Homo sapiens: one gene and its partners. The protein of the gene in region 2 purifies or fractionates together with the protein of the main gene of each other region. This does not show direct contact. Each region holds a gene or a part of one and is shown on either strand. Other genes may lie near its edges.

What was found. Proteins that work in one complex are often made in the same cells at the same time.
Region 1: the proteins of DERA (region 2) and AGL fractionate together in Homo sapiens (co-fractionation; one large-scale study listed by BioGRID). This does not show direct contact.
Region 3: the proteins of DERA (region 2) and NCAPD3 purify together in Homo sapiens (co-immunoprecipitation; one large-scale study listed by IntAct). This does not show direct contact.
Region 4: the proteins of DERA (region 2) and CBS fractionate together in Homo sapiens (co-fractionation; one large-scale study listed by BioGRID). This does not show direct contact.

What each region holds. Positions count from the first base shown.
Region 1 is NC_000001.11:99,877,861-99,881,360, forward strand, and holds part of AGL (glycogen debranching enzyme), read left to right. Parts: intron 1-2,062; coding exon 2,063-2,186; intron 2,187-2,771; coding exon 2,772-2,935; intron 2,936-3,215; coding exon 3,216-3,317; intron 3,318-3,431; coding exon 3,432-3,500. UniProt on the Homo sapiens protein: Multifunctional enzyme acting as 1,4-alpha-D-glucan:1,4-alpha-D-glucan 4-alpha-D-glycosyltransferase and amylo-1,6-glucosidase in glycogen degradation.
Region 2 is NC_000012.12:16,032,006-16,036,532, reverse strand, and holds part of DERA (deoxyribose-phosphate aldolase), read right to left. Parts: intron 3,992-4,527; coding exon 3,879-3,991; intron 302-3,878; coding exon 152-301; intron 1-151. UniProt on the Homo sapiens protein: Catalyzes a reversible aldol reaction between acetaldehyde and D-glyceraldehyde 3-phosphate to generate 2-deoxy-D-ribose 5-phosphate. Participates in stress granule (SG) assembly.
Region 3 is NC_000011.10:134,154,468-134,157,967, forward strand, and holds part of NCAPD3 (condensin-2 complex subunit D3), read right to left. Parts: coding exon 3,461-3,500; intron 2,629-3,460; coding exon 2,551-2,628; intron 1-2,550.
Region 4 is NC_000021.9:43,062,336-43,065,835, forward strand, and holds part of CBS (cystathionine beta-synthase), read right to left. Parts: intron 3,361-3,500; coding exon 3,281-3,360; intron 3,187-3,280; coding exon 3,052-3,186; intron 2,938-3,051; coding exon 2,868-2,937; intron 1,657-2,867; coding exon 1,565-1,656; intron 744-1,564; coding exon 618-743; intron 61-617; coding exon 1-60. UniProt on the Homo sapiens protein: Hydro-lyase catalyzing the first step of the transsulfuration pathway, where the hydroxyl group of L-serine is displaced by L-homocysteine in a beta-replacement reaction to form L-cystathionine, the precursor of L-cysteine.

The DNA.
Region 1 (3,500 bases), on a different chromosome or scaffold from region 2:
AGAAATTCAGTGTTCCTTCCTAGCTTTCCTTAAGTAAACTATGCAGGTAAATGTTTCCTTTTGCTAGTTGGACACAAGCATTGATTTGGTGGTAGTATTTATCACTATTGCATAATTAGCATAATTCTAACAATCTTTTGCAGTTGTTATGGAATACTGGGCTATAAAATATTTAACTAGCTAATTTTAAAATTTTAATTTAGGGAAGTTGATCACGTTTCTGATAATATGGAGTGCAATCATATTGGCTACTGTGAATACATAAAATGTTAATTTTTGTTATTTTTAGGTTGCTTTCAATATATTTTAGAAGTGACTGTGAAGGTGAATAGCTTATTACACATTATAGTGGTGTGTGCCTATAGTCCCAGCTACTCGGGCGGCTGAGGCAGGAGAATCACTTGAACCCAGGAGGTGGAGGTTGCAGTGAGCCGAGATCACACCACTGCACTCCAGCCTGGCGACAGAGTGAGACTCTGTCTAAAAAATAAATTAATTAATTAAATTAAATAAAAAATAAACATTAACATTATAGCATATTGAAGCCAGTCTAGCCTCATCGATTTAATTTTTATTATTTATAAAAATTATAAGTGTAAACATAAACATTGTCTATTTCTCTTTGAGCTCTTTACAATAACTTCTGAACAATGCCAATACTTATAGTATTAACTTCTATCTAATACAATCTTTGTAATTAAACTCATAATTTTCATCCTGCTTATAAGTTTTTTTTGTTATTTTTAGAAACCCTACAGTGGCACTGCTTATAAGATTTTTGATACCTTACTAGTGACCAGTGTCACTTAGGTGTTCTTTGGAAATGTGTGCTTACCTAAAAAATGTCTATTTCTATAATATTAAAGCAGTATTATAATATATATTTCAAGTCCTATGATGAAAAATTGATTTGATTTGGAGGGATTTAGTGAATATTAGTTAAGCTGGTAGAACATTGTTTAGTTCCAAAAAATGACGGCTTTATTTTATTGTGCTTTTAGCAATAGCAAAAAGAAATATGCTTCTAAGATTGTTACATGGCAGAAAAGAATGTTCAAACTTAATTTACTTAATTTTAAATTACAAAATCTAGGATTCTACTTGTTAGCTAATAGAGTTTCAAGTATTTTATTAATCTTTGTGCAAATGTTGTGTTTAACAGTTTGGAACCAATCTGATTTTTTATTATAAACCAGTGTTTATAATAAACAGCTAGATAGATAGCACCAGTGTTAAACGTAAATCACACAAGTGGAAATTGTAAGGTGTAAGAGTTTTTAAGAGTTATTTATCATCATCTGTAGGAGAAACTGGCTTCAGTCTGGTCAGACAAATCTAATCTTTCCAACAGCTAAGTAATTCACCAGCAGGGAATTTATGAATAATTATTTAGTCAACCACCTGGAAATTAAGTCTGATTAAAGTTTTAAAAATAAGCAAGCAGGCCCAGGCACGGTGGCTCACGCCTGTAATCCCAACACTTTTAGGCTCAGGCAGGCAGATCAGCTGAGGTTGGGAGTTTGCAACCAGCCTGACCAACATGGAGAAACCCCATCTCTACTAAAAATACAAAATTAGCTGGGTGTGGTGGTGCGTGCCTGTAATCCCAGCTACTCGGGAGGCTGAGGCTGGAGAATTTCTTGAACCTGGGAGGCGGAGGTTGTGGTGAGCTCACATCATGTCATTGCACTCCAGCCTGGGCAACAAGAGCGAAACTTGGTCTCAATAAATAAATAAATAAATAAATAAGCAAACAAAAAACAGGGAGAAAACCTAACAGAATTGTAGTGTTATGATTTACATTTAGTAATATGAAACTAACATTTTTCTTCTTCTTTTCCTCTCTCATGTCTCAATATCTTTGCAAAATCTAATCTTCCTTTTTAACCGTTTTCTTCTCTTGATAAATTCTCTTGTTTCTATGTGTTTTGGTATGTTTGATATCTTGCTGCATATTTTTCTATGTCAAATCATGCCTCCTTTTGTCTCTTTCCTTCCTCCTATCTTGCTTTTCTCTTTCTGTTACATTTATTTGTTACATTTGTCACTGTGCTTTTTACAGTACATGTTGGATGCTGCTAGGAATTTGCAACCCAATTTATATGTAGTAGCTGAACTGTTCACAGGAAGTGAAGATCTGGACAATGTCTTTGTTACTAGACTGGGCATTAGTTCCTTAATAAGAGGTAGGCTTGTTGGAGTGTATTTCCCTCTAAAACTTTAGCTTTTGTTTAAGTAGATTAAAGGATTTAATAGCTTCATATGCAATGCTTAATAATTTTTTAACACAGTTAATGTTCTTCTAAATACTTTGTATGACATATTCTAATATAACTCAGTCTATTTTTATCAGTATAAATTTCTACTTTGGGGTAAGATACCTCATTTCAAATTGAAAGACCAGTAGGATGAACTGAAGACTCACTAACAAAACCATTTTTTGTTGTTGAAAATATGCAAACCTGTTTTTCATCTTCTACTGGGAGATATGATGTAATGTTTAGATGTTTTATAATCAATTTTGTATAGCTTACATCCCAGTAAACAACATATGTTCCCTTTTCCTTACATGAGCCATTTCTCCAGTTAAGTTATGGGGAAAACTTTTTTGTCACTTAAACTAGTAGACATTTGTTTAAATCCTTAAAGCAGTTTTATTTTTTATAATATTGATGTGGTCTTTATTTTGAAAATCATTTATGAGAAGAAATCTAACCTCTTCCTGGACATAAATAATGAAGATTGTTAAAATATTCTGTAATGCTCTGCAGAGGCAATGAGTGCATATAATAGTCATGAAGAGGGCAGATTAGTTTACCGATATGGAGGAGAACCTGTTGGATCCTTTGTTCAGCCCTGTTTGAGGCCTTTAATGCCAGCTATTGCACATGCCCTGTTTATGGATATTACGCATGATAATGAGTGTCCTATTGTGGTAAGCACCTAATCTTTTTCATGTACTTATTTTGCTAAATGCTTTGATATTTAACTCTCTGACACTTGGTCACAATCATACCCATATACTTCAAAATAGTGTCTTAGATTTATAACTGATTTATAATACATAGTTTTCAGAATGTTTTACTTGTTTAAAAGCAAATTAATTTACCTTATGAATTTATTTATGTAATTATCCTTTTACTTCATTATGCTATAGAATAGCACTTTGCATTTGAAAGAAAGCAAACTTTTGCTTTGTTGTTGTTGTCTTCTAGCATAGATCAGCGTATGATGCTCTTCCAAGTACTACAATTGTTTCTATGGCATGTTGTGCTAGTGGAAGTACAAGAGGCTATGATGAATTAGTGCCTCATCAGGTTTGTTTATATGTTGTTTCTTAAAACCTACATGGCCAACAACTTTGGGCATTTTTATTAAAAAAAATTCATTGTAATTAAGATGTATCCATGCTAAATTTTACCTTTGTCCAGATTTCAGTGGTTTCTGAAGAACGGTTTTACACTAAGTGGAATCCTGAAGCATTGCCTTCAAACACAGGT
Region 2 (4,527 bases):
TGATGGCGGTTTGCTTGGAAGAAAAGGTAGAGGATTGGGTAGGATGAGGTCAATCAGATGAGTTTTTATCTCCAGTTCTCAATTTGACTTTTCAATTCCTTTCTCAAAAAACACTTGTTAATTTATTCCAAAGACAGAGATGATTACTCACCTGCCTCTCAATGTCCGAGAGCAGAGTACTGGCACCTATTCGAAAGAGTTCTGGCTTCAGCCACTCATCTCCAAGCTCCTCCTTTACAAGAGAGAGCCAAGCAAGGGAATCCTTTGCACTGCGGATGCCTCCTGCTGGTTTAAACCCTATCTAAATGGGAAGGCAGAGAATAGAACAATCTTTATTGTTATTGGATTTCTTTTAAAAATAGTACTATGTTTATCAGAGTCTTGATTCTCTCTCTCCCTCTTTTGTTGAAAAAAAATCTTTTCACTTCATCCAGTGAAAGGGCTTAGATCAGTGACTCATGCTCATTCACACTACAAAACAACTTTTCCAAGATTTTTGGAAGAATGTCACTACTTCCAAACAGACACTAGTGAGGGTTAATAACCCTCATTAACATTTCACTTATTGGAAAGTCATAAACCTCCACCATCTAGACTATAGCTGTGAACCTGGAATAAACAAGGAAGGTGTCAATAAATAGGAAAACAGATCACAAAAGCAAAGCCCACTCATTCTACATTTCCACAAGTAAGCCTGTAGAGTCACTTCTCAGCCTTCATCTTGAGGTTCAAAAGACACGTGCATTTAAAATCAAAGGACAGAATCAGCAAGGCTGCAAGGTTACCCTAACCAAACTGGCAGCAAAAAAGCAAGGAAAGTTGACAGTTGTTTTAACCAATTTAACTGTGGGATTTTTTTTCTAAGTTGCAGGCACACACAGTTCTAAAAAGCTGGCAGACCAGTTACATAAGGGCAGTAGAAAAACACCGTGAGGGGCTCCTCATAGTCCAGTAGTCTTTAAGGTTGATCATAACACAGCTGAATTCAGCCAATATCTGATATTCGTAAATGATGTCCCTGGATCCATTAGGAAATGAAAGATATGTTCCATATACAATAAAACTCTGATTATCTGGATTTACATGTTTCAGGAACCTGACTATCCAGTAGAGTTGGGAATCTGTAGATGGTAGTGGTCAAAACAACACCTCAGAGCCTGAGTACTAAATCTCTCACGTTTTATCACTCAGGGCTATGACTGGTTGCACCAGCAGATGACTGCTAACAGAATGCTAGAGAAGGGAGACATTAAATGAATATATTCTATTATCAACCCAAGCAGGAAACCTTATAGTTTAATCCAAACTCCACCATTCCCTGGCCACACCACACCCAATCAATATTTAAGTCCTGACAATTCTACCTCCTTACCTTCCTTACCCCCTCACATGCACTCTTTCCACTGCACTCTCACTTGTTTCAGTTTAGACCCTTATCAATTCTCACAGGAAATATCAGTAAAAGTCTTTTAACTGGTTTCCCTGCCTCAATTACACAACGTCACACAACTAAGCAGTAGCAGTGCACGGATTCCAACCATATCTGCTATTACTCTGGAGCCCAAGCTGTAAGGTAGTAGGGGGTTAAGTAGGATGAGGTTATTTGTTGAGAATAAGCCAAAAAAATCAATTAGTTGATATTAGCATACATGTTAATCATAGGACCATTTTTGTCAATTAGGCAGTGCTTCTTACAGATTTCCTATACAGTTCAGTTTGTGTCAGCAAGTCTGTTTCCAGAGAGGTTCTAACATAAGTTTATCTTTTTTTTTTTTAAAGAGAATATGGAAGACATAAATCTGCAATGAAATCAGTTATGAAATATTAAACCTCTGCTTCTCAGGAGTGACACTAATCATGGTCTGGAAGCTAGCCTATCGCATTTTAAAACACCCTTAAATCAATGACGTAGAAACTTTATAGTCTAAGGGCTGCCCAAGCAACTTGTCAAGCAACCCGAAAGGCTGCACCTGATTTGCAAACACATACACAGAACCTATTTGTTTGAAATCGAATATGATTAAATGAATACAATTTGGCTTGTACCTGTCTTTTTCTTAATAAAACTAGGATGGACTTATTTATTACCGAGGAAAAGAATCAATACAATTAAAAAGAAAGGACTGAAAGACAGCAAAGTGTCCCTCCCTCTGTACTCTGGCCTGGAACACTGAGCACTTAAAAATTTCATTGACATTCTTTGCTTGTTGTCTAAGAGCTCTCCTGAGAAGGAACATACTCATTTTTCCATTCCTAGCATTTAACACAGGTTAACATGGCACATGGTTAACTACCCAATAAATGTTTGTTGAGAACAAAACAGGACTGGGTCCCCAATGGCAGGTCTGAACCCTGGCAATGGAACTTAATGCAAACAGATGCCTGAAGACTATGCCAGACCCAAAACCACCAGGGATGGGGGCCCAGGCATCTGTAAGTATGAAAAGCTTCACATTTGGTTTTGATATTCTTTGGCTAAGAATGAGAATCACAATCAAATGAGTGGTGGTAGTTTCAACTGAGGACCAAAGATAGATTTATCATTTTTACAGCTTATCTAAACAAAAACTCTTTTAACTTATTTGGATTGTTGCAGAAAGGATACCAGGTAGAGGTTATTCGAGTTGGGTCAGCTTTCTCATGTAGTTCACAATAGATATTTATCCTATTCGTAATTAAGATGTGAAGTTATTTTAAGTGAGAAAATTCTGGAAGGAGTTTATTTCCTCTCATAAAACAGTATATTAAAAAAAAGGTCACTATTCCAAAATAAACTGAAGCTACACTTACATATAAAGTCATCACATCCAATGGACAAAGGATTAAAGGTCTTTTTTGGGTTTCTATTTGGCACAAATCAAGAGACTGGATTTAAAAGATGCCTCTCAGGAAGGGAAAGTGTCATTAAACACACACACACACACACACACACACACACACACACACACACAACCTTGCTCTCCAATCATGTAAAAAAAAAAATCCTTTGAGATAATTTGCAGCTAAACAAGTAACTTGAGATGAAAAGGAAAATCCAAACTCATTTTTAAAAAAGCAACTCATACGCATTTTTCCTTTTAACTTCATATGTTTCAAAAAATATGTATCATTTTTCGAAAAGCTGACAAAAACTAGTATACACCCTCCTCAGCTTAACAGTCTTCCAAAGAGCACATCCAACTTCCATAAAACGCAAAAATTGATATTTAATTCAAGAGCTATATAACGTCTAGCTACCTTTTCCCTGCTGTTTCACAGCATTTCATTATTTTGTTTAATAAGTTCATCTCCTCGAGAATTTTCTCTTCACCTCATATTATTAAAAGTAATAAGTTTTTCTGGACCGGGGGTTTCCCAACAGAAAAACCAATTTATGTGTGTCCTTCAATAATGACAGGAAAAGATTGTTTCCCATTATATTGCATACCTTTCATATCACCACCACAGCTTATCATTCAATAAATGTTACTCTGCAATTCTTTCCATTCCTCAAGGAAGTTTAATTTCTGCATTAACCTGTTTTCACTGGCCAACACCTTGTGAGAAAGCCTCTGTGTTGCAGCAGAATTAGTTCGTTAAAGAACCCATTTAGGAATCTCTTGTCAGTGACAAAATTGTCTTCGGTTAACAAAAGGACATAAAGTGAGTTTACATCTTGATCACACATACTCACTCCCACACTCACAACTCACTTTCTGTTCATCACAATTTTTCTCCATCAGTGTGTTCTTTTATAATGAAAGGTAAATTAAACATTTATCTTAATAAAGGTAATTCATTCACAACTTCTCCATATAAAGACAGTTATTGTGGCTGTAACTAGTATTATAAATAACATTATCTTTACTCTGAAGAAAGATTTGCTGGCAATAATATACCTTGTTTCCAGTTTTCCAGAAGAAATCTCTAATGGCCCGCAGCATTACTATAGCTACCGGGAAGGTGGCATTTACTGTTTCTTTTCCAGTAGAGGTCTTAATAAAATCTGATCCTAAAACAAAAAGAGGAAAAACTCCATGTTAATTAAAGATTCTTTTTTTACACTTTTGAGTCAGTGGGAGAAATGAGTTGTGTAAATTTTTTCCCGAAGAAACCCAATGTTATTTTTCATTAATTATTGGAAAAACTAAAACCAAAATCTCCCTTTAAAATGATTATGTCCATACTTTTTCCCCCTTACCATCACTGTATTAGGCACCAAATATATTCTCACTGACCTCTGATACTCTTGCCTCCATATTTCCACAATGCCAATTAAAATCAAGTTGGTTCATTTAATACATAACTGAGATGAATAAAAACAATTTTATGCCCTATGCTTAATATTATACATCGTAACATTTTACTACAAAACAGGAGTGCCTACTCATTTTCTCCTAATTTGCTCATGCTTAATGAAAAGTACACAGTATACAGTTGTGACAGCTCAAGAAGAATCACCATTAGCTGATTTCTATTGCATTGTTCATTAATGAAAGAACTGTCTTCCAACCAGATTAGCATTTCCATGAAAGAGACCACGCTATT
Region 3 (3,500 bases), on a different chromosome or scaffold from region 2:
CTTCTCTGCACCCCCCCCCCCACCGCCCCATCTGCCTACACATGCCACCCTGTCTTGGAGGCCCGGGTGGTGCAGCCTCACCCCTCCTGGGTGGTGCAGCCTCGCCCCTCCTGGGTGGTGCAGCCTCGCCCCTCCTGGGTGGTGCAGCCTCGCCCCTCCTGGGTGGTGCTGTACCCAGTGCATAAGCTGCCACCAGCACACTCCCGGGAACAGCACGGGCTGGGCAGCTGCTTGCTGGTACCACTGAACCTGCTGCCCTTCTGCAAGCACATGCGAGGAGGCAGCTTCAGAGCGCTCCCCGTTCTCCACTTGGTGTCTTGAGTATGGACTGTGTCTTCCCATTTACAGTTCAAAGCTCATCAGCGCACTGCAGCTGTGTACCCGATGGCTACTTGAGTGTCACTAATAGACGATGGTAGAGAATTCCTCATCACTGCTAGATCTGCTTATTCTGTTTCGGTGAAGTCTCTCCTTGTGCTGTCACATGAAATTCCCTTCCTGACACACACACTGCTCTTCCTGTTTGGAAGCCCATATGCACTCCAGGAAATTAGTCTCCCATCTTTACAGAAGCCCGGGTGCGGGGGCTCTGACGTCCCCCATGCACTGTGCGTAGAATCGAAGGCAGCAGCGTCTGTGCCACCCGAATGGTAACAGTAACAGGGACTTGCTAAAACCCCCACAGATTTTCAGTTAAAATCCTCGCTCTGAAAATTGACTAATTTTCATTTCCATTTAGCAAAGCCACTGTGAATTGGTGCTGAACTGGGTGGCATCTTTCCTGCCAGCTTTGAAGAGCTGAGACACTTCCTGACAGTCTCCCCCACCTAAACTAAAAGTTGCCAAAAAGAATCTGGACGTATAAACCACAGAGAAAACAGAACTGAGTGCTTTTAAACTATCTAACAGTTCTCCCAGGAAGGGGAGACCTCCAGGCATTTCTTCCTGGTTCAGTATAAAGAGAGACGGACAGAGACTGCATCAGCAGGAATATTATGTCCAAGAGCCTGGAGCAAGAACAAGTACTCTACCAACTCAATGACACCGGGCGCCTGATTTCCAGCACAAAGCGTGGCTCCACACAGGCAGATGAGGGCGGCATGAACCCTCCACGCCAGGCTGCCCTGTGGAGAAACACGAGCTGCTAGGAAACAACCCAACACTGACATCAGGGACTCAGGATGAGCACAACGAAAATGAGATGCGTTCTCCCCGTTTCTTCAGCATATGGCACCTCACTGCCAAAATAGAAGCTCTTGGCACTCCTGAGCCAGGAACATCGAACACACAGCAAGCTCTAACACACAGAACATCGCACCTGTCCACGACGCAGGATCCCAAATTACCCACTGCCTTTAATGACAAATGCCGTCATGATTCGGTTGTCGTCTGAGGGTGGGGGTGGGATAAACTCCCTTCAAAGGGGGACCTGGATGAAAATTACCTCTAACCTGTTAACTATTCTAAGAGATCACAGCATCAGTGTGACAGAACCAAACAAGCAAGTAGCTAGAATACAGCAGGTGCTCCACACACATGAGCTGACTGAAGCAGTGACTAAACGAACGGCAGGACACCTTGCTGCTCTGTTACCAGGAAGAGCACCTTAGCACGCTCTCATCTTCCCCTGCAGTCAGGACTAGGAGACAGGCTGGAGAAGGGGCACAAGAGTTGGGACCAGAAGGCCTGGGCTCAGCGCCCAGCTCTGCCCTCCCAGAAGTCTCCGGGAGGAGATCTCTGACACCTCCCAGGTTCCAGGCACTGTGGTCTGTGGAAACAGTGAGGAGTGGAATGGCCAGGGACGAGCGGGGCTGGATGCAGCTTGCTGAGGGCACTGTGCACAGCCGGGCGCAGAGCGAGGGGCACACAGGGACACGGCGGCAGGGCCTAGCCACTACTCCACAGATTTAGGACAGGAAGCATTTCTTCTTCCTGTAAGAGTTTTCTCAAAATAATGGTTTTTATGAGGTTTGACACAATATGAAGCTATCACACAAGATAATAGGAAAAGAATACTCAACTCTCCTAACTCACCTCTGTTTTGAAATCAAAGGAAAAGCACAAACAGTAGGAAAAAACATGGAGGGGAATGAGACACAGGCTCCGAGCAGGGGTCCCCGGGTCTCTGGTCTTGGCAGTTGCAGAGCGTGCATGGTACCTGCTGGTGCTGACGTCTGCCCGCCCTGGGAGCAGGCCCACCCAGCAGCGCCCAGTGCACCCGGACAGCCCAGAGACACGGAGGGCCGCCTCCAGAAGGCACCACTGGGTCAGTCACCCAACCTACCTGTGCCTCAACGGCATTGTCTGCTCCGCGGGCCACTGTGGTGTTTGACTGACTGAATGTAACGACACTGGAACAACATACTCGGTCAGTGCTCATGGATCAAGCGACCGTGGTCACTGTGAAATACTCCACCTCAGCAATGCACTCATGGTTCTGACCATCAGAACTATCCTGCACCGGAAGGAGTTTTACTGCGACTCTAGCAAACACATCACGAATGCAGGAGAGACTGAGGAGAAGCCCACGTGTTCCGATCAGTTACTCACTCTCGGGGGTGCTGATGGCCCGCTTGGTCACGTGCTCAATCTCGCCATTCGACTCTTGCTCCAAACTGTATGAAGACACTAGAACAGAAAAGGTGCTGCTATCCAGAAATACCCCCAAACAATAACGAAGAGCAAAACAACCACATGAGAAAACATATCTGCAAGACGTAAAGTCAAAATCACTAGTGTTTACAATTTTCTTATAAAGAGGCAATTCAGGAAGAAATACAAATAAATGATAAACATGAGAAAAAATGTCCATTCTCATTAGGATTCAAAAAAATAAAAGAGTCTAACTTGGCATAAGTGATAGAGGACAGTTTGACACTATCCAAAGTTTTTAAATATCCATGGCCTTTGACTGCTGGGAATTAATCCCAAGGATTACATACATACAAGGCTATATGTACAAGGATGTTTACTGTGATAGTATTTGTATGGAAAAATTGAAAATCAACATTTCAAAGAACAGGATAGTAATAAATCAGTTATTTCCACAGCCACAATGCTATAAAGCCACTGAAAGCAAAGGTTGGAAAGAAAAGTTCATGGAAGCTGTCTACTACATCTACTACATCTGACTTAAGAATGCAGGGAAACAGGTCATAAAACAATGCACGCACAGATCACAATTCCATAAACAAAACAAAACACGTGTGTGTAAGAGGAACAGAATAGCTGGAGGAAGGAATGCCTCACTGCTATGGGTGAGTTTCATATTTCACTCTATTTTCCAAATCTCCTAGAATAAATATGCATTGTTTTACTACCCATGATCCTAAAAGCCCAATTAACGTTATTTGTTTTAAAGATAAGAAAACACACCGCTTTGAAAGGAATAAGAAGTAGCTTGTTCTGTGTTTTCATCTGTAAATGCTCTACTGTGTCTGGCACCAAACATAAGGCTTACCCTGACTGCACGTTTTTTCTGGGCTTCCAGAATTTAAAGT
Region 4 (3,500 bases), on a different chromosome or scaffold from region 2:
CAGCATGCGGGCAAAGGTGAACGCCTCCTCATCGTTGCTCTTGAACCACTTGTCCACCACCTGAGCAGGACCCCACCACAGCCCGTCAGCGTGGGAGCCGCTCCCACGTGACCAAGAGGGTGAACAGCCTCATGGTGGACCCCGTGTCTAGGCGGTAGGACCCCAGAGGTCTCACCCCAGCCTCTCCCCCTGGGATCGGCACGTCTGCAGACTTTCCAGTTCCAACACGTTTTGCAGACAGCAAAACTGCCCGCCAGCCCCACTGAGCATCCGTGTGACCCACACCGGCCCTTCGGTCTCTGCTCTCCCTCAGGCCAAAGTCAGCTTTTTGGCTCTTAACAGACTTTTCCGGGGCCTTAATTTTCACACGTTTTCCCTGCTCCCTGCCTGTGCCACCTGGGCTACATCCCTTGGTGAGGTCAGGCCACGTGTGCGGACATCGTCCCCCAGTCTACTTTGTCTCGACCTTCGAGACCAGCTTCTCACCATGCGTGCGGGGCTTGCCCTTCTGTTTCAGTGGAGAAGCTGGTTGGGGCCCAGGGTCAGCCAGGCTCCCCAGTGTGAGGGTGAGTTACAGGCTGCACCGGCACTGTGGCCGGGCTCTGGACTCGACCTACCGTCCTGTCCAGCACCGTGGGGATGAAGTCGTAGCCGATCCCTTCCACCTCGTAGGTTGTCTGCTCCGTCTGGTTCAGCTCCTCCGGCTCTGCGAGGATGGACCCTTCGGGATCCACCCCAATGATCTGCAGAGGGCGCGGCTTCAGGGCTCAAGGCCAGCAAAAGCCCCGCCTGGACATGCCTCGATATTCTATTATGGGAGTGGCCAATACCGCCGTTAACAACTGCCTGTTAATGATCTGCCTGTGGGTGGTGGCCTGTTCCCAGCCTCAGAGGCAGGATGAGAAACCCAAGAACCCAGGCTCCAAGTATTAAAGCGGTAATGACCTAAATGTTCAGTGCAGGGCGCTCAGAAGTAAAGGCAGGTGCCTGGGAGGAACTGACCTCCCCGGGGTGCTTCTCGGAGCGGGGCCCCCAGGACAGTCCAGACAGACCACCCTGCGGCGGAGCAGCAGAGCCTTTGGGGACAAAGGGCATTGCTGGGCAGTGACGTCTTTTTCAAGGGCAAGCAACAGGGAGAGAACGCCCTTGTCTCATCAGCGGGACCTTTCTAGGCACCCGTCCTCAGACCTGCTCTTAACCCCGAGTCCAGGAACCCTCTCCCAACTCCCACAAGCCCCAGTTGAGGGGCAGACTCAGGACCAGAGGACTTAGAGCTCCTGGCTGATCCTCAGAGGCCCCCAGTTGGAACTCCGACCCCCCACTCAGCGCAGGAAGGTTCTCCAAGACACTGGCCGGTGAGCGAGCACCCAGCCCCAGCTCCTTCGGGTCACGAGCTGCTGGTCCCTTATGTGTCAAGCACCCTTGTCTTCCCAAACACCTCCCAGGCAGCGCAGAAATACCGCGGGAGACAGCGTGCTGAGCAGACCGTGAGGAATGACAGCTTTCAGCTCAGAAGCCGGGGCCACTCCGCACTGCCCCTCTCCGGCCCGGCCACACCACTCACCCTGCATCCAGGACACTTCTCCTTCAGCTTCCTGGCAATGCCCGTGATGGTGCCGCCCGTGCCCACTGAAGCCACCAGCATGTCCAGCTTCCCTGGTGGACGGATAACATTCTTGGGTCCCTGCCTGGCCAGCCCATCACTCATAGTAATAATCATTGAAAACACACTCAGCCCAAACCACGGTGGGTAACCAAAAAGTTCAAAAGAAAAACTTCTTCTCCAGTTGGAGCAGCCCTCGTTGCTGCCCTTGGTCTGTGAAAGCCTCAGAAACAGGCAGCCTGGGGCACCCCAGCCCAGTCTTTGCTCAGTGACACTCGACCCCTAAAACCCCCATTTGGCTGGATGCAGAAAGACAGGACCCTGTCCGGGGGGTGCAGGCGCTGAGGGCGGGCAGAGGGAGGCTGTGAATTAACCACCTCCGTGGGCTGTTGGATGTTTGCGTGGTGTGAGTGAGTTAACTGAATTTACACAGGAAATGGAATCAGTCTTTTAGGCTTCAGCGCAGAAACTCGCTGGGCGCTCACACTGCTGGCCGCCAGCGCGGGCATCTGGTGGAGAAGTCACAGCAGGGAAAGACTCAGCGAGACGGAGCAGCTTGGGCACCCATGCTGAGACAGGACTGTTTTTGCCAAATGAGAGAGTTCTCACACATAAAGCCCAAACAACCAAATGCCTGGACCTTACAGCCCGGCTCCTGGGCACGGACTGAGGGTGTACTCCAGCCCATGCCAACACCGGATTCCCAATAGGAAGCCAGGGCGCCAACCTCTTGGCAACTTATCTCTAAAGGGATCTCTTGGGAAAACCTCAGTACCAACCCCCACAGGCCTTGGCACCGAGTCCCTGGAAAAGGGCCCAAGGAGCCGGCCTCATGCTTGTAACAGAGAGTGAGCTCATCGCAGATGTCACCAGCTCTGTTCTGCAGATGAATTTGATGCCGAGTCAGGGCATGATCCCAAATGAAGTCCAAGCTGTGAGCCCAGCACCAGCCTGGGCCCTGAACAGACTCGCTGTCTGCATTATCTGCAGGAGGAGCCCCTGCAGACCTGCAGAGATTGCTGGGTAAACAAATACAGCCATGCCCTGTGTTTGCTATTACAGGTAAACCACAGGCGGAGGCCAAGAGGGCACAACGGAGGGAGGAAATTGTTCTAGAGAAATGCTCTAGAAAAGCATTTCACAGAGGGAACATTTGAGCTGGGTTCTGAAGGGTGAATAGGAGTTCACCAAGGAGAGGGCAAGAGATGTGTACACTCCCAGGCAGCCAGGGATAAATGCAATCAAGATGGACAGAGGGACGCACCATCACACTGCTGCAGGATCTCATCAGCGGTGGTGTCGTAGTGAGCCAGGGGGTTGCTGGCGTTGCGGTACTGCATAGAAAGAGAGCAGAGCCCGTGAGCTGACCCCTGACACCTCAGTCACCCCCACATCCCTGACCGAGACCCTCCTAGGGAATGCCTGTCTCCAGGCCCCAGGTGCCTCACCTGGTCTAGGATGTGAGAATTGGGGATTTCGTTCTTCAGCCGCCAGGCCACCCCCACGTGTGACTCCGGGGAGTCGAACCTGGCATTGGTGGGCGTCCTCACAATCTCAGCCCCCAGTGCCCGCAGCACGTCCACCTGCAGGAGGGAAAGCGGTGGCCTGCACCTTCCGCCTGGCCCAGGCACCCTCATCCCCTGCCCTATGACCCCGCCCCTGGCCACGCCCACCCACCTTCTCGGAGCTCATCTTCTCTGGCATCACGATGATGCAGCGATAGCCCCTCACTGCCGCAGCCAGGGCCAGCCCGATCCCTGAGGGCACACAGAGGGTGAGAGGGGCCCAGTGACCCCCCAAGCCCTGCCCCGCCCCTGCCTGGGACACAGGGGCACACCCCGATGCCGGTTCCCTTAGGGCCCAGGGAAGAGGGTTCTGTGGGATTCCAAAATTGCCC